Linked DNA regions of Homo sapiens. The protein of the gene in region 2 interacts with the protein of the main gene of each other region in a pairwise test. Each region holds a gene or a part of one and is shown on either strand. Other genes may lie near its edges.

The links. The genes of interacting proteins can lie anywhere in the genome.
Region 1: the proteins of ANKRD28 (region 2) and DOCK1 interact in binary tests that used the Homo sapiens proteins (3 or more experiments, as listed by UniProt).

The regions. Positions count from the first base shown.
Region 1 is NC_000010.11:127,405,401-127,412,427, reverse strand, and holds part of DOCK1 (dedicator of cytokinesis protein 1), read right to left. Parts: intron 3,392-7,027; coding exon 3,250-3,391; intron 3,116-3,249; coding exon 3,037-3,115; intron 2,174-3,036; coding exon of another isoform or gene 2,012-2,173; intron 1,589-2,011; coding exon 1,504-1,588; intron 1-1,503. UniProt on the Homo sapiens protein: Involved in cytoskeletal rearrangements required for phagocytosis of apoptotic cells and cell motility. Along with DOCK1, mediates CRK/CRKL regulation of epithelial and endothelial cell spreading and migration on type IV collagen.
Region 2 is NC_000003.12:15,675,957-15,682,983, reverse strand, and holds part of ANKRD28 (serine/threonine-protein phosphatase 6 regulatory ankyrin repeat subunit A), read left to right. Parts: intron 1-3,420; coding exon 3,421-3,508; intron 3,509-3,599; coding exon 3,600-3,683; intron 3,684-4,629; coding exon 4,630-4,775; intron 4,776-5,356; coding exon of another isoform or gene 5,357-5,370; exon of another isoform or gene 5,371-5,421; coding exon 5,422-5,504; intron 5,505-5,927; coding exon 5,928-6,010; coding exon of another isoform or gene 6,011-6,014; intron 6,015-6,994; coding exon 6,995-7,027. UniProt on the Homo sapiens protein: Regulatory subunit of protein phosphatase 6 (PP6) that may be involved in the recognition of phosphoprotein substrates. Involved in the PP6-mediated dephosphorylation of NFKBIE opposing its degradation in response to TNF-alpha.

The sequences.
Region 1 (7,027 bases), on a different chromosome or scaffold from region 2:
TGGCTTATTTGATGCCTTTTCAACATGGATCCACTCACTTGAGCCCAGGAGTTCAAGACCAGCCTGAGCAACATAGACCCCACCTCTATATAAAAAAATAAATAAAATAAAAATACAAATGAATCCATGAAAGCAGTTTGTATGTAGAATTTTTAAAAGGCTCTAGGGCCAGGCGCGGTGGCTCACGCCTGTAATCCCAGCACTTTGGGAGGCTGAGGCGGGGGGATCACGAGGTCAGGAGATCGAGACCATTCTGGCTAACACCGTGAAACCCCGTCTCTACTAAAAATACAAAAAATTAGCCGGGCGTAGTGGCGGGCACCTGTAGTCCCAGCTACTTGGGAGGGTGAGGCAGGAGAATGGCGTGAACCTGGGAGGCGGAGCTTGCAGTGAGCTGAGATCATGGCACTGCATTCCAGCTTGGGCGACAGAGCGAGGCTCTGTCTCAAAAAAAATAAACAAATAAAAATAAAAAAATAAAGAAAAAAGGCTCTAAAGATGTTTGCTGTTATTTCTACAACTCGAATGCCGTGGTTTGCAACAAGGGGCAGATGTTTTATTTTGCAATGTCTGGAAACTTTATTTTTTTGATGGAGTTTCACTCTCGTTCCCCAGGCTGGAGTGCAATGGAGCGATCTTGGCTCACTGCAACCTCTGCCTCCTGGGTTCAAGCGATTCTCCCGCCTCAGCCTCCCAAATAGCTGGGATTACAGGCGTGCACCACCACGCCCGGCTAATGTTGTACTTTTAGTAGAGACAGTGTTTTACCATGTTGGTCAGGCTGGTCTCGAACTCCTGAACTAATTTGATCTACCTGCCTCAGCCTCCCAAAGTGTTGGGATTACAGGTGTGAGCCACCATGCCTGGCCTGGAAATCTTTTTGATTGGTTGTCCCAACTGGGGTGGTGGCACTGGCACCTAGTAGGCAGTGTTCAGGGATGCTGCCAAACATCCCTGGATGCACTGGATGGTCCCCACCACAGAGAATAACCCGGTCCGTATTGCTAGTAGTGCTGGGGTCAACCCTGCAGTTGTGTGTTGTGCTCCACTGAAGTTCAGGTGCTGGATACTGAATGAGGAATGAGCACCCGGGTCCAGATCCAGTTCATGTGCTGACTGCTGTGTCACCTGCAGAAAGCCACGTCAGCACCCCGCACCTCAGCACTCGGTGGGTCCATTTTTAACTAGAGATGACAGGCACCTGCTCTCTCACCTGGGGCTCGCAGGGAAGGCAGTGCGCTACTCATATGGGAGCTCCGGCATTTGGACGGCACAGTCTCCTTATTAAATATCTCAGTGACCTTAGTCATATTGTTAGTGAAATGGCAATTAGTTTTTCTAACTTTGGAGGGGGTAATAGATTAAGATTTCTGCACATAATACACAAAGACATTTAATATGGCTCCGTGGCTGCCTCTGAGGCCACGCTTCTCCAGTGGCAGTTCTACTGGTGGCGGAATGATATTTTTTGTTGTTTGGTTTGGTGGTTTGTTTGTTTTTTACCGCAAATTCATTGTCTGGGTTTTTCTCTCCCTTCCGGATTGGCCGAGAATATTCAAATCGCTGGACCTCGTTCACCCTGTAAAAACTGTACAGAGACAGACAGATCATTAGATATTTAACCCGGCAAATAGCCAATTTGCTTTTGGACACGGGGTCTGGCCTTAGAACATGTCACTGCCTCCTGTAAAATGTCCCTAACCTTGACCTGAAGCCATCGCCTTGGTGTCCTCTCCCAGCCAGGGAAATGTTGGCAGGTGGAAAAATTAACTTGAGTTTTTGCCTCTTCCCTGTCCCTGCCAACCCTCGAGGGAAAACAGAAGCTGAGTAAGAGTGAAATGAGCAAAAACAGAGGAAAGGTGAAGCGAAGGAGAGAGAAAAAAGCTTTTGTGTTCAACGTATGTGTTTATTATTATTTTAAAAAAGTATTACATACCTTAGTTTCAGATCTACAAAGCACAGATTTTGCAACCACCCCAAGAGTGACACACAGGAAACATAAGTAACCTGCCTCCGCGGTCGGGGTACGAGGCAGGCTTTCCGCATGCACAGGGCAGGGCGTGGAGAGACTGAGACTGATTTCTCCCCTGCACTGAAATGCAGGCAGGCTTCCACAGCAAAAGAAACTACTGCATCTGAGAAGGCTCTAAGCGTCACTATTTGCTTAAGGCCTCTGAAAAAAAATGTTGCAACCCTTAAAATGTATGCCTTGCGAGAGCAATCATTTGTAAATAAACAGGGTCCCAGTTTATTTCCCATTATTGCTGATGCAAGGTCAAAGAAACGATGAAAGGTTAAAGAAACCACCAAACTTCAGGAAGCAAAATGAAGCTGATCCTAAGGAATATGAGGTCATCAAAGAGATTAATATTTTCACCAGAACATGGATCAAACAGAACAGAAAAGTCTTAATATCAAACACATCTGCTAAAGCAGGTCTTTCTATGCCATTGCTAAGTCAGGTGCGATACAACTGACAGGCAGAAAATCTCACTCAAATATGGACAGTTGACTCAGGAGGTTTAAAAGCCCCCTCATAACCCTACATTATGGAATTGCTGTGCTGTAAGGCTGAAGGGTTCTCCTGTGTGTCACCAGGAGCAAATGTGCAAATCCCATTTCCCGCCTTCTAAAATGCAAACATTCAGGCCACACTCACATGTATGAACTTGGCTTTGCTGGGAACAGGCAGGACTTGTGCACTGCTGTGAAGTTCCCTAGGGGATTGTACCCCACAGGGCAGGTCTATAAAGGAGACCAGACGGCCTCCACTGCCCTCTTAGGTTTTTGCTGTCAGCTGACTTTGGGAAAGGAATAGGCTTTGCACGCTCCCAGCACATGGATTAACATCTCCTGTCACTTTTTTTGGATGCTGAAAATAATTAGCTTCCCTTGCTCTTCAAAGAGGACAGAAAGAGCATTTGGAAAGCGAATCCATGGCCAAAGTCCGTCCTTTAAAAGGTGGAATTATTAGCAAGAGATCTGTACACAGCCTCTTACAACCCTCACGTTGGGTAAGAAAAATGGGATTATTACCTTACAATCTGCTCTGACACTGGCCTGTGAAACTTAGGAGGCAGATCGAGTTTGGGCTTCACTGTGAAGCACTGAATATCTGAGGTGAGGGGGTTAAGGATCACTAAGGCAGCATAGACATCAACCATGAGAGAGGCCCCCCACCACACCCAACCACCCAAATGAATGGCATCACCATGGTTTCAGAGTTGATGAGGTTGTCTTAAAGGATACACTGGCCAGGAGAGTTTTTAATATCGTCGCCTGGTGGAGATGTTGTCTTCATTTTCTCGGCGTTTGGAAACTGAGTTAAGAGCCGAGCCTCAAAATCTTCCCGGCGCTCATACTCTTTCCCTCGGTAAATGAAAACTTTTCCCTGAAAAGGGTGACATTCATTTCATAACACCACAGAGAAAGGGCCAGGAAGAGTTCACATGCAATATGCTGGCCTTAAAATATGCCTTACGGGTTCTTACAAAATGTCATTAAATTTAAGAACAACTTGTAATTTTTATTTTTTTTTGTACTTGCGTTGGCTTTGTTAATCAAGAACACATGGTCATCAAGCATGTAAGTTAATACTGTTTAAGAAGCACTCAGCACTGCGCTACTAACATCTGTGATATGTTTTCATCTTGACAGTAACAACTGATTTAAAAACTATATGAAAAACCAAATGAGCACTCAGAAGCCCACACTAGAATGGGCATGAAATGGTTAGAAGGGGGCAAGGCAGCCAGGACAAGTGGATAATGATGTCCACACTTTTTCTTGTTTTTGTTTTCTTCTCAGGTAGGCCCTAATGAAGTTGTTTTCATTCTGCCATAAGGAATTTAAGAGAGCTTGAGCTAAGGTGGGGCCCCAGCACCTGCACACGGCCGCCGGGCGCTGACTCCTGTGAGACACAGCCGAGGCGAGCAGAACCCGAGGGGAAGGGATGCAGACCAGAGCCGAGAGCTACTAAGTTCCTGGCCTCCCCCGAGTGAGTGACTGGCGATGGACGGAGAGCAGGACTTCCCTTCCTGCATTCAGAATGTGTGTGCAGGTCATTATTCATCAACACATGTCAAGATAAAACATACAGAGCTCTTCTTGGAAGGGCTGGGTTTGGTCCATCTCAAATGACACTTTTGTCACCTCCATAAATTCCAAGATGGAATGTCAGTCCACTGGGGTTGTTATAGACGGCTAGGCTAGACTAGGCAGTCCGGGGCGGGGAGGGGAGTTAAGTAGGTAAGTGTTCTTCCTTCCACGAGGCTGTCTTGTTGAGGTCATTTCTGCCTGAGTGTGACACAGTCCTCTGTAAATATACCTGTAAGGAACGTTTTCCTTGCAAGATACAACAGGTCTCCGTTTTTTTCCCGATTTCAACACGTGTGTTCTGAGTGTGAACTCGGTCACAGAAAGGGGCCAATGAGTACCTAGTGTAATGCTGCTGCTGGTTTTGGAAGCCTTCTGCCTCCCCCCACCCATCCTGTCCCATCTGGGGCTGTCTCAACCGAAATGAAAACTGCCACAAGGAGAAGACAGCGAGCAGAAGCCACAGGGGTACAAGAAACAGAAGTCTGGGGTTGGGGGGGTAACACTTTCCAGGACGGGGCGTGGTTGCTGAGGTGCTTCTGTTCTTTGATCAGGGGACACGGGGGAAGAACCTCCAGGTTGGCTGCTCCCAAGTCAGCTGCAGCCCTGCCCCATCTGCAGTCATTCCTGGACAGGTGCCAGAGAGGGAGACGAACAGAGACAGAGACAGACAGAGAGGACAGCATTTTGCTGCATATTTTTACACTTACCCCCTAAAGACTAAGATTGAAGTCAAATTAAAATTTGTCTAACTAAAGGATTTTCAAAAGGATTAAGAGAGATTCTATGACACTGAATCAATTGATCCCTGCTGTGGTCAGAACGTTTGTAGTCCCCAAAATTCAGATGTTGAAACCTAATCACCAAGGTGATAGTATTAGAAGGTGGGGCCTCTGGAAAGGCTCCACCCTTAGGAAAGTCATCAGTGCCTCAGAAAAGAGGCCCCAGAGAGCTGCCTGCCCTTTCCACCCCATGAGAACAGGTGGAAGGCGCCATCTATGAGGAATGGCCCTCCCCAGACTCCAAATCTGCTGGCACCTTGATCTTGGACTTCCCAGCCTCCGGAACTGTGAACAATACATTCCTGTTGTTTATAAAGTACCCAGTCTAAGGTATTTTGTTACAGCAGCCCCAGTGGACTAAGACAGTCCCCTTCCCTTGCCCCAGCTTATTCTGAGTTCTCCTAAATCGCTAAAAAAAGAACCAGTTTAAGAATTGAATTCTTTTTCACTTTGTGCTTAGATATGTCTTAGAAGTACCATTATGGAAGAAAAATGCTCTATTTCTCCCCACCGCCCCCCCGAAAAAAAAAAGTCAAGCAGAAACCAGATAATATGTCATCTTAAATACAGTCTGAGCAACTTCTAAGGCTTCTATATAAAGCCACGCACTTCCAAAATTCAGTAAGATTTAATGGATAACAGACTACTATCAAACTAGCAAGCATTTTTCTTATGCTTTACATGAGAAAACATAATAATAAAAATGTATATAAAGACTTTAATAGAAAAAAGCTAGTGAGTTATAGGTAAAAACACGAATAACATTTTCTGAAAATGTCAGTTACTTTGCATTCTGAAGTGATCCTTTTGAACATGAAAACAAGGGGGAAATGTACATATAGTCAAAGATATTTATTCCTTGTAAGGTCTATAAATATCAACATGAGCACAAAAAACAGTGAGACCAATTTTTAGAGAAAAACAAAGCAAAAGGGACAGCTAGTCAGTTCTTGGAGGCTCCTCTCCAGCAGGGCATGAAGCACGCAAACATTCTGCCCACGTTTTGGTAACTGCCAGTGTCATTGGCAGATTGACCCCTGCCAGCTCATCTGTGAAGTGTGATAAATATATTGCTGCAGACCCACAGAATGATCCAGGTGTGGCGGGAAAGTCAGTTCAATATTAATCGAGCCTGTTAACCTCCATTCAGACTTTTCATTTTGTCCTTTTGGTGGTGGAGATGACCCAGCACCGCCCCTGGAGCCTGCTGTGTGTGAGCTCCTGGCACAACCTGGCATCTATTGGCTCGGGAGCTGCAACGTGTCCTCCGCACCCGGCACTGCCCTCACATAATATTCCACGCAGGCTGCTCCCTTGCTCTGGATTCTGGGATAACCATCCTGCACGGATCCAGAGTTGGTGCCTACATACCAGAGGTAGATCTCCATCCACAGGGGCCACACGCACCATCTAACACCAAGCACTGCACAAGGCTGCATGGCTTAGGGTCCACCTGCCTCCCTTTCCTAAAGATGTATGTTCCGGAGCACACACACACTCGAATTAAAGCCTTTAGCAACAGTAAGTGGCTTTAACTCCAAGCTCATTCCACCCTTCAGCTTTGTTTTTTATTGAGAATGAAGCTAATTTCAAATTTGTCTCTAATTTAGAGCTTGTAACTAAGCCTCCTTTATTCATTCTTTGGAAGGGAAGACTTTGTTCAGAATCTGTGCTTCTGATCAACCGCTGTCTTTGCTGCACGATGAAGGCAAGAGGAGAAGCTGACCAGCAGTGACCAGGAGTGACCAGGACAGGGCCAGACGCCTCCGTCACCAGGCAGGACACTGAGTGGGCAGCCAGCCTCACCTCCTAGAGCAGGCCAGAACTGTGGTGCTCCCCTGTCAACAGTGACATGCCCTTCCTAAGGGGAGGTCTGTATCCTCTGGGTGCCGTGATGAAGAGATGTCACACTATTAGTGACTCCCGTGGAGTCGGAAACACAGGACCCCAAATGAACAACGTCTGGAACCAGGGGAATCTCCCAACTGGTTTCAACTGCCCCAGACGGCTGTGCTCAAGACACAGAGCTTCTGCTTCCTAAAGCCAGAGCAATCACACATAGTCTCCTAGGATAAGAGAAAACCAAGTGTCCAAAAAAAAAAAAAAAAAGTCATAAGAAATATCAGGAAATCATGACCCACTGGTCAATG
Region 2 (7,027 bases):
GCAAGAGACAGAATTTTGCAAGAACTGCATGCCTGGTTGCCATTTAAAGATCATAACAAATGTGTCTGATTTTCAGCCTGTAGCAAAATTGTGGTGATGCTGAATTTGAGCTGGAAGGAATTTAATGTGTGTTGGCTATATGCAATAAGCGACTATATAGACAGCCTAAAATTAATACCATATTTATAGCCAAAAGCCCGTTTTATAATTTGGCATTCTGAAAGTAGAATATGTAAAATGGTTTTTACTTTAACTAGTAATTATTGTACAGCTGGAAAGAAAAGTGGAAGCATGCCAACAGAACAGAAAACAACCTCTTAAAATTAAAATGAAATGATGGCCAAGTTTTAGAAAAACACTGGCTGTAGATACTAAAAGTTCACAATTTCAGTTTATATAGTCATTCAATCACAGAACTTAAGAATACTTATTATTCCTTTAAAAAATGTGTTCATTTTTATGAAGCTCTAAACATCCTCAGACTAGCCTCTGAAACTCAGGAGGACCCAGTTTACCATCCTATCTATCTTTCATAAATGATGATAGAAAGTTATGAGATTGTCTGCTTGATATCACCCAGTAATGATTTCTGGAGGTCACAAAGGGGCCCCACTGTTCCCTTTTCTCAGTCTGTACTCAGATGGTGAGTGGTTCTCAAACCCTTTGGTCTCAGGAACTATGGATTGATACTGACTGTATTAGAAATTGTAATTGAGAAATTTTTAAATACTTACTGATTTATTTAAAAATAATGTCTATTACATGTTAACATAAATAATCTTTTTTTATGAAAACTATTTTCCAAAAGTATTTTCTTTTTAGTGAGAAGAGTAGTACATCTCTTCATAGCTAATTTAAGAGAATAGTTGGGTTCTCATCTGTGTTTTTATTCATATTTTTTTTGCGTCACCCCAGGGTTCCCTAGGCCACACCTTAAGAACCCATATACCTGGAGAATGAGGGGCTCTTAAGTCAACAATGGACAACTTTCCATTGCTGTATCTTAGTAATGAGTTAACATTCAGAACGATGGCATTAAAGGAGTTTCTCAACCTCAGCACTATGACGTTTTGGGCCAGATGATTGTTGCAAGGGACTCTCCAGTGCATTGCAAGATGTTTAGCAGCATCATTGGTTTCTACCCACTAGATGCCAGTTGCACTGCCCCACCTTCAGTTGTGATAAACAAAAATGTCTGTAGGCATTGCCACATACAATATCTGCTGATGGGCAAAATCCACTTGAAAACTACTAGATTAGAGAAAAGAACTGACAAAAGATGGAACACAATTACAGGTTTTTCTAAAAATTACTTTTCCACAATTATAGGGTAAAGTTTAAGCTGATTAAGTTTGAGTAATTTAAAAAGAAAAGAAAATATAACATCACTTTGGTAGGCAAATATTAAACCATGAAAATGTATAAAGAGGCCATGTAAGAATCTTATTCCTAAAGTAGATCCCAAATGACTAATGAAATAAAATAAGCAACATTTTATTTGTAGTAATTAGGGTATTAAATTAAAACCCTGGCTCTGGAATTAGGGTAAGAAAATTTGAAATTTGGATTTTTCTGTTTTTGAAGTTACTGTTAAAAACTATGGACCAGATATTGATGAACAGTCAATACAGTCAGCCCTCCATATCCATGGGTCCCCCATCGGTGAATTCAACTGAATGTCCATCAGAAATATAGTTAGGCTGAACATGTACAGACTTTTTTTTTGTCATTATTCCCTAAACAATACAACAACTATTTATATAGCATTTACATTGAATTAAGTTGTAAGTAATCTAGAGATGACTTAAAGTATATGAGAAGATGTGCATAGGTTATACACAAATAAACCATTTTGTACAAGGGACCTGTATAAGGGACTATGGAGTTTTGCTGTCAGTGGGGAGTCCTGGACCCAATCCCCCAAGAATACCAAGGCTGGATACTTCTCCTTTACCACAGCAATATCACTTTGGTAGGAAATTGTCCTACAAAAATACTTCCTAAAATAAAAACAAAATGTTGGCCGTGGTGGCTTATGCCTGTAATCCCAGCATTTTAGGAGGCTGAGGCAGGCAGATCACTTGAGCTCTGGGATTCAAGACCAGCCTGAGCAACATGGCAAAACTTCATCTCTACAAAATATCAAAAAATTAGCCAGGTGTGGTAGCCTTGCACCTGTTGTCTTAGCAACTCAGGAGGCTGAGGTGGGAGGATCACTTGAGCCCAGGAGGTTGAGACTGCAGAGAGTCATGATCATGCCACTGCACTTCAACTTGGGCAACAGAGCAAGACCCTGTCTCAAAAAATTGTTTTAATAAAATAAAAAAATACCAGAATGTTTCATTACAGCGTTGTTGATAATATCATGAAGAATTTTTTTAAACTAGCAATCACTTTAAAATCCATAATTAGATTAAATAATTTATGATATACTTTGATACTGTGAAGCTCTTCAGAACATTAAAGAATAAGATTTTAGCCGGGCATGGTGGCTCACACCTGTAATCCCAGCACTTTGGGAGACTGAGGCAGGTGGATCACCTGAGATCAGGAGTTTGAGATCAGCCTGACCAACATGGTGAAACCCCGTGTCTACTAAAAATACGAAAAAAGCTAGCTGGGCATGGTGGTGGGCGCCTGTAGTCCAGCTACTTGGGAGGCTGAGACAGGAGAATCACTTGAACCCAGGAGGCAGAGGTTGCAGTGAGCCAAGATCGCGCCACTGCACTCCAGGCTGGGCAACAGAGTGAGACTCCATCTAAAATAATAATAATAATATTTCATATATGCTATTATGGAAGGATATGTGTAGTTAATATTAAGTAAAAGGCAAGTTGCGGAATTAAACATCCCATTGCCATTAAGAAAAAAATAAAAAAATAGCACAGTCATTTCTCGTTTGCTGTTGAGGATTGGTTTCCAGGACCCCTTGTGAATACCAAAACCAACAGGCGCTCAAGTCCCTTATAGAAAATGGGATAGTATTTGCATATAACCTATGCACATTCTCTGCTATACTTTAAATCATCTCTGGATTACTTATAATAACCAATGTAATGTAAATGTTATGTAAATAATTGGTATGCTGTATTTAGGGTATATGACAAGAAAAAAAGTCTGCTCTGTTTTTTTTTTCCCCCAAATATTTTTAATTTGGGGTTGGTTGAATTGATGGATGCAGAACCCACGGATACAGAGAGCCAACTGTATGTATTTTGTGCGTGCAGTTGTATATGCCTAGAAATTTTCAGGAACTACTGGTGGCTTAACAGCTACCAATGGTTATATTCCAGAGAGGGGATCTGGGAGATGGGATGAGGGAGAGACTTTTACATTTTTCCTTTAAACACTTACATGTACCTGTGATTTTTGCCAGTATCTCCTTTGAATTTTAATACCTGGTTCTTTACACCTATTTAGGTCACGAGACATGTGTAGAACTGCTTTTAGAACAGGAAGTTTTCCAGAAAACGGAAGGAAATGCTTTTAGTCCATTGCATTGTGCCGTGTAAGTAAAGCCAGAATGAATCAGATTTGGTTTGAGTGTTTTAAGAAATACACCATTGCTGTGAGAATGATCACCTTGTTACCTTACACAGGATAAATGACAACGAAGGTGCTGCTGAGATGTTAATTGATACATTAGGTGCCAGCATTGTGAACGCCACAGATTCAAAAGGAAGGTAGGAATTCAACTATGTATTAAATAGTTTTAGCCAGGCACAGTGGCTCATGCCTATAATCCTAACAATCTGGGAGGCTGAAGTGGGAGGATGACTTGAAGCCAGGAGTTTAAGACCAGCCTGGTCAACATAGCAAGACCTGCATCTCTACCAAAAAAAAAAAAAGTGCATGATGATGCATGCCTGTGATCCCAGCTGTTCAGGAGGCTGAGGCAGGAGGATCACTTGAGCCCAGGAGTTTGAGGCAACAGTGAGCTATGATTGCACCACTGCATTCCAGCCTGGGTGACAGAGTGAGATCCCGTCTGGGCCCTACCCCCCAAAAAGGTTTTATTTTCAATAAGAAATAAATTTTAACTACTGGCTGGTGTGAGAGAATTTACAGAAAACCCATTATTAAAAGTTGATTTTTATATTTGCGAGTATAAATTGTTATAAGATCTCAATTATTTTTACATTATAAAAGGTTTTTCTATTTATAGATTTTAGGAAGTTTTCCTCCTTTAAACTATTTTAACATGTAAATATTTTTCCCTCTCTTTCGAATTTGTTTCCCAAAGATTATTGTTAACAAAGTTAACAGTTTTCTAAATGGGAATAAAGCCTGGAAAAAAGTCCAGCAGTTGTAATAAGTGGTGGTATTCAGATTAGGATTTATTTCTTTCAAAATTTCCTTTAATGATGTAATGTTATTTTAGCAATTTTGTAATTAATCTTTACTTCATACTAGTTCTAGTTTAATTAAAGCCTTCTGTATTATTGAAAGTACAAATTTCTATGAGAGAAATTAGTAAGCTCCATTGAGCCTATTTGTTTGTGTACAGGCAGTGCTTTTGTAGCCTAATATGTAAACCCTTAAAAACAGCATGTCACAAATTAAAGAATATTTTTCCAGCATATATAACATTCAAATTTAGTCATATATTTCAATTTTTCTTTATCACAGAACTCCTCTCCATGCAGCCGCCTTCACAGACCATGTAGAGTGTTTACAGCTGCTGCTCAGCCATAATGCTCAAGTCAATTCTGTGGACTCTACAGGGAAAACACCTCTTATGATGGCTGCAGAAAATGGACAAACAAATACAGTTGGTAAAGAAACTTCTTTAAAATTGTATTTTCCTAAGTATGTGTATCACTTATGTATAACTTAGATCCCAAGACTTCTGACTTCAACTAGTTATCTTACCACTCCTAAGACTTAAAACCTTTTACCTGTTTGCAATCCACATTTTCATTTAGGGATACAATGTTTTAGTTTGCCCTGACTATTGAGGAGTCTACTTTACCATGGCCTTATAACATAGTGGTTAAGAACACTGGCTGTGGAGTTGGATTGCCTGAATGTGAGTCCTAGATCTTTCAGCTAAATGACCTTATGCCTCAGTTTTCTCATTTATAAAATGAGAAAAATAACAGTATCTACTTGGTGTGTTGTTGTGAGGGTTAAATAAATTACTTTAAATCCAGAGCATATAAAACAGTATTTAAAATTTAGTGCACAGTCACAAAATAAATGTTAATTGCCATTGTTAGAGTGTGTGACTTATACAACAATATAATTGTCTCATACAATTATATGAAGATATATATGTTATATATTACAATATTTTTCTTGTACTTAAGTTTTTGTGAGAGGGACTTTTTTGCTTTGTATCTTCATTTCTCTACAGTGAGTTATTGGTAATCTAAGAAACATGTTCATAAACATAAGAATTGATGCACTTTTTCCTCCCAGAGATGCTGGTTAGCAGTGCTAGTGCAGAACTGACTTTACAAGATAACAGTAAAAATACTGCCCTCCATTTGGCTTGTAGCAAGGTATGTATACATCTTAAGAATATGTTTCCATTGTTAATATTAACAGTGACCTTAAAAGTTTTTTGACTTCACTAAAATGAACAACTCAGGACCAAACCTCTCTAATGATCACTGGTATTAGATTTCTTGAACAAAATTGACTTATAAGGCACCATGGCGTATCAAAGTCTCCAGTAAGCCAAATAAGTTTTGGAACACAAGTCTAAGCATAATTATCCTCTTTCCTTAATCTTAATTTTGTCCTCTTCTCCTACCCTCACTCCCAAGATGTGTTTGGGCAAATATTAAGATATTAGCCAGGAAAATTCATGGTATATGTATGGTGTTGTACATAATATATGGACTAGGATTGCAGATTGTTGGGTGTATAAATGTATCTTTAATGGTGCTCAAGTTTTTATAACTTATCTGCCACAATTATAGGGTCATGAAACTAGTGCCTTGTTAATACTGGAAAAGATAACAGATAGAAACCTCATCAATGCAACCAACGCAGCCTTGCAAACGTGAGTACTGTCAGTATCTAGTATAAACTTTGTGACCTATAATTATAAAAATGATAAATGGATTTTTTTAAACATGTGACTATTGGAATAGGTTTCATTAGTCATAGAAGCAATTTTAATAGTTTTACAACTGTCAAAACTCATTTCTAAAATGATCACAACTAAAAGCCATATTATTTAAAATGCTTTTGAACTGAAATTTTATTATAACATTGACAATAATGTATTTTTTTCCTTAATCCACCTACCTAATTTTCTGAAGGAAAGTAGTACTATTTTGTGTATTCTGTGGAAATCAACTGTAATAATATGTTACTTGAAACTAACAATAAATGAGGTAAGAAGCTTTATGTGTGTCTGTAAGCCAATAAGGTTTCTTAAAGAATCAAAATTTTTAATAATGTGAGCAGCCAACCTCCAGATAGACTGACAGAGATCTTACATCAGTGTCTCTCATTGTCCCTTGCTATTCCATTTTGAGGTTTAGTAAAGATAAAAATCTTAGAATATTGTTGCCCGTTCTGGGATTAGTCAGATCCCTTGAAGGTCCAAAAATTAGTCATGATGCTTGTAAGCTGTTTTCAAAGCCTATTAGAATTTATGCTACTGCAGTTTACAGTTTTTAATGTATAGTCTGTATCTTTACCAGCCTCATTCCTTAACAACGGAGGAATGCAATTTCAATGGTAAAATGTTTTTAAACATTGAAAAGAAAAGTAACAAAAGGATTGGGTGAAGGTAGGGACCTGTCGATGGGACCTATGGCTGAGCTTGATGCCGAGCTACACGTTGACAAGGTGTGACAGTGCACTGCACAGAGGTTCTGCTCTCCCTGCCCCCATCTTTGTTATTAGGACTAGGTTTCTCGAGTTTGTACCTCTTGGTCTTCACAAGTTGACAAAAATGCTCTTTGACAGCCAGGTGTGTATGTGTATGTGCATGCACATGCACATATGTGTACATGTATCATGTTTTTTCCCCTAGACCTCTGCATGTTGCTGCCCGAAATGGGCTAAC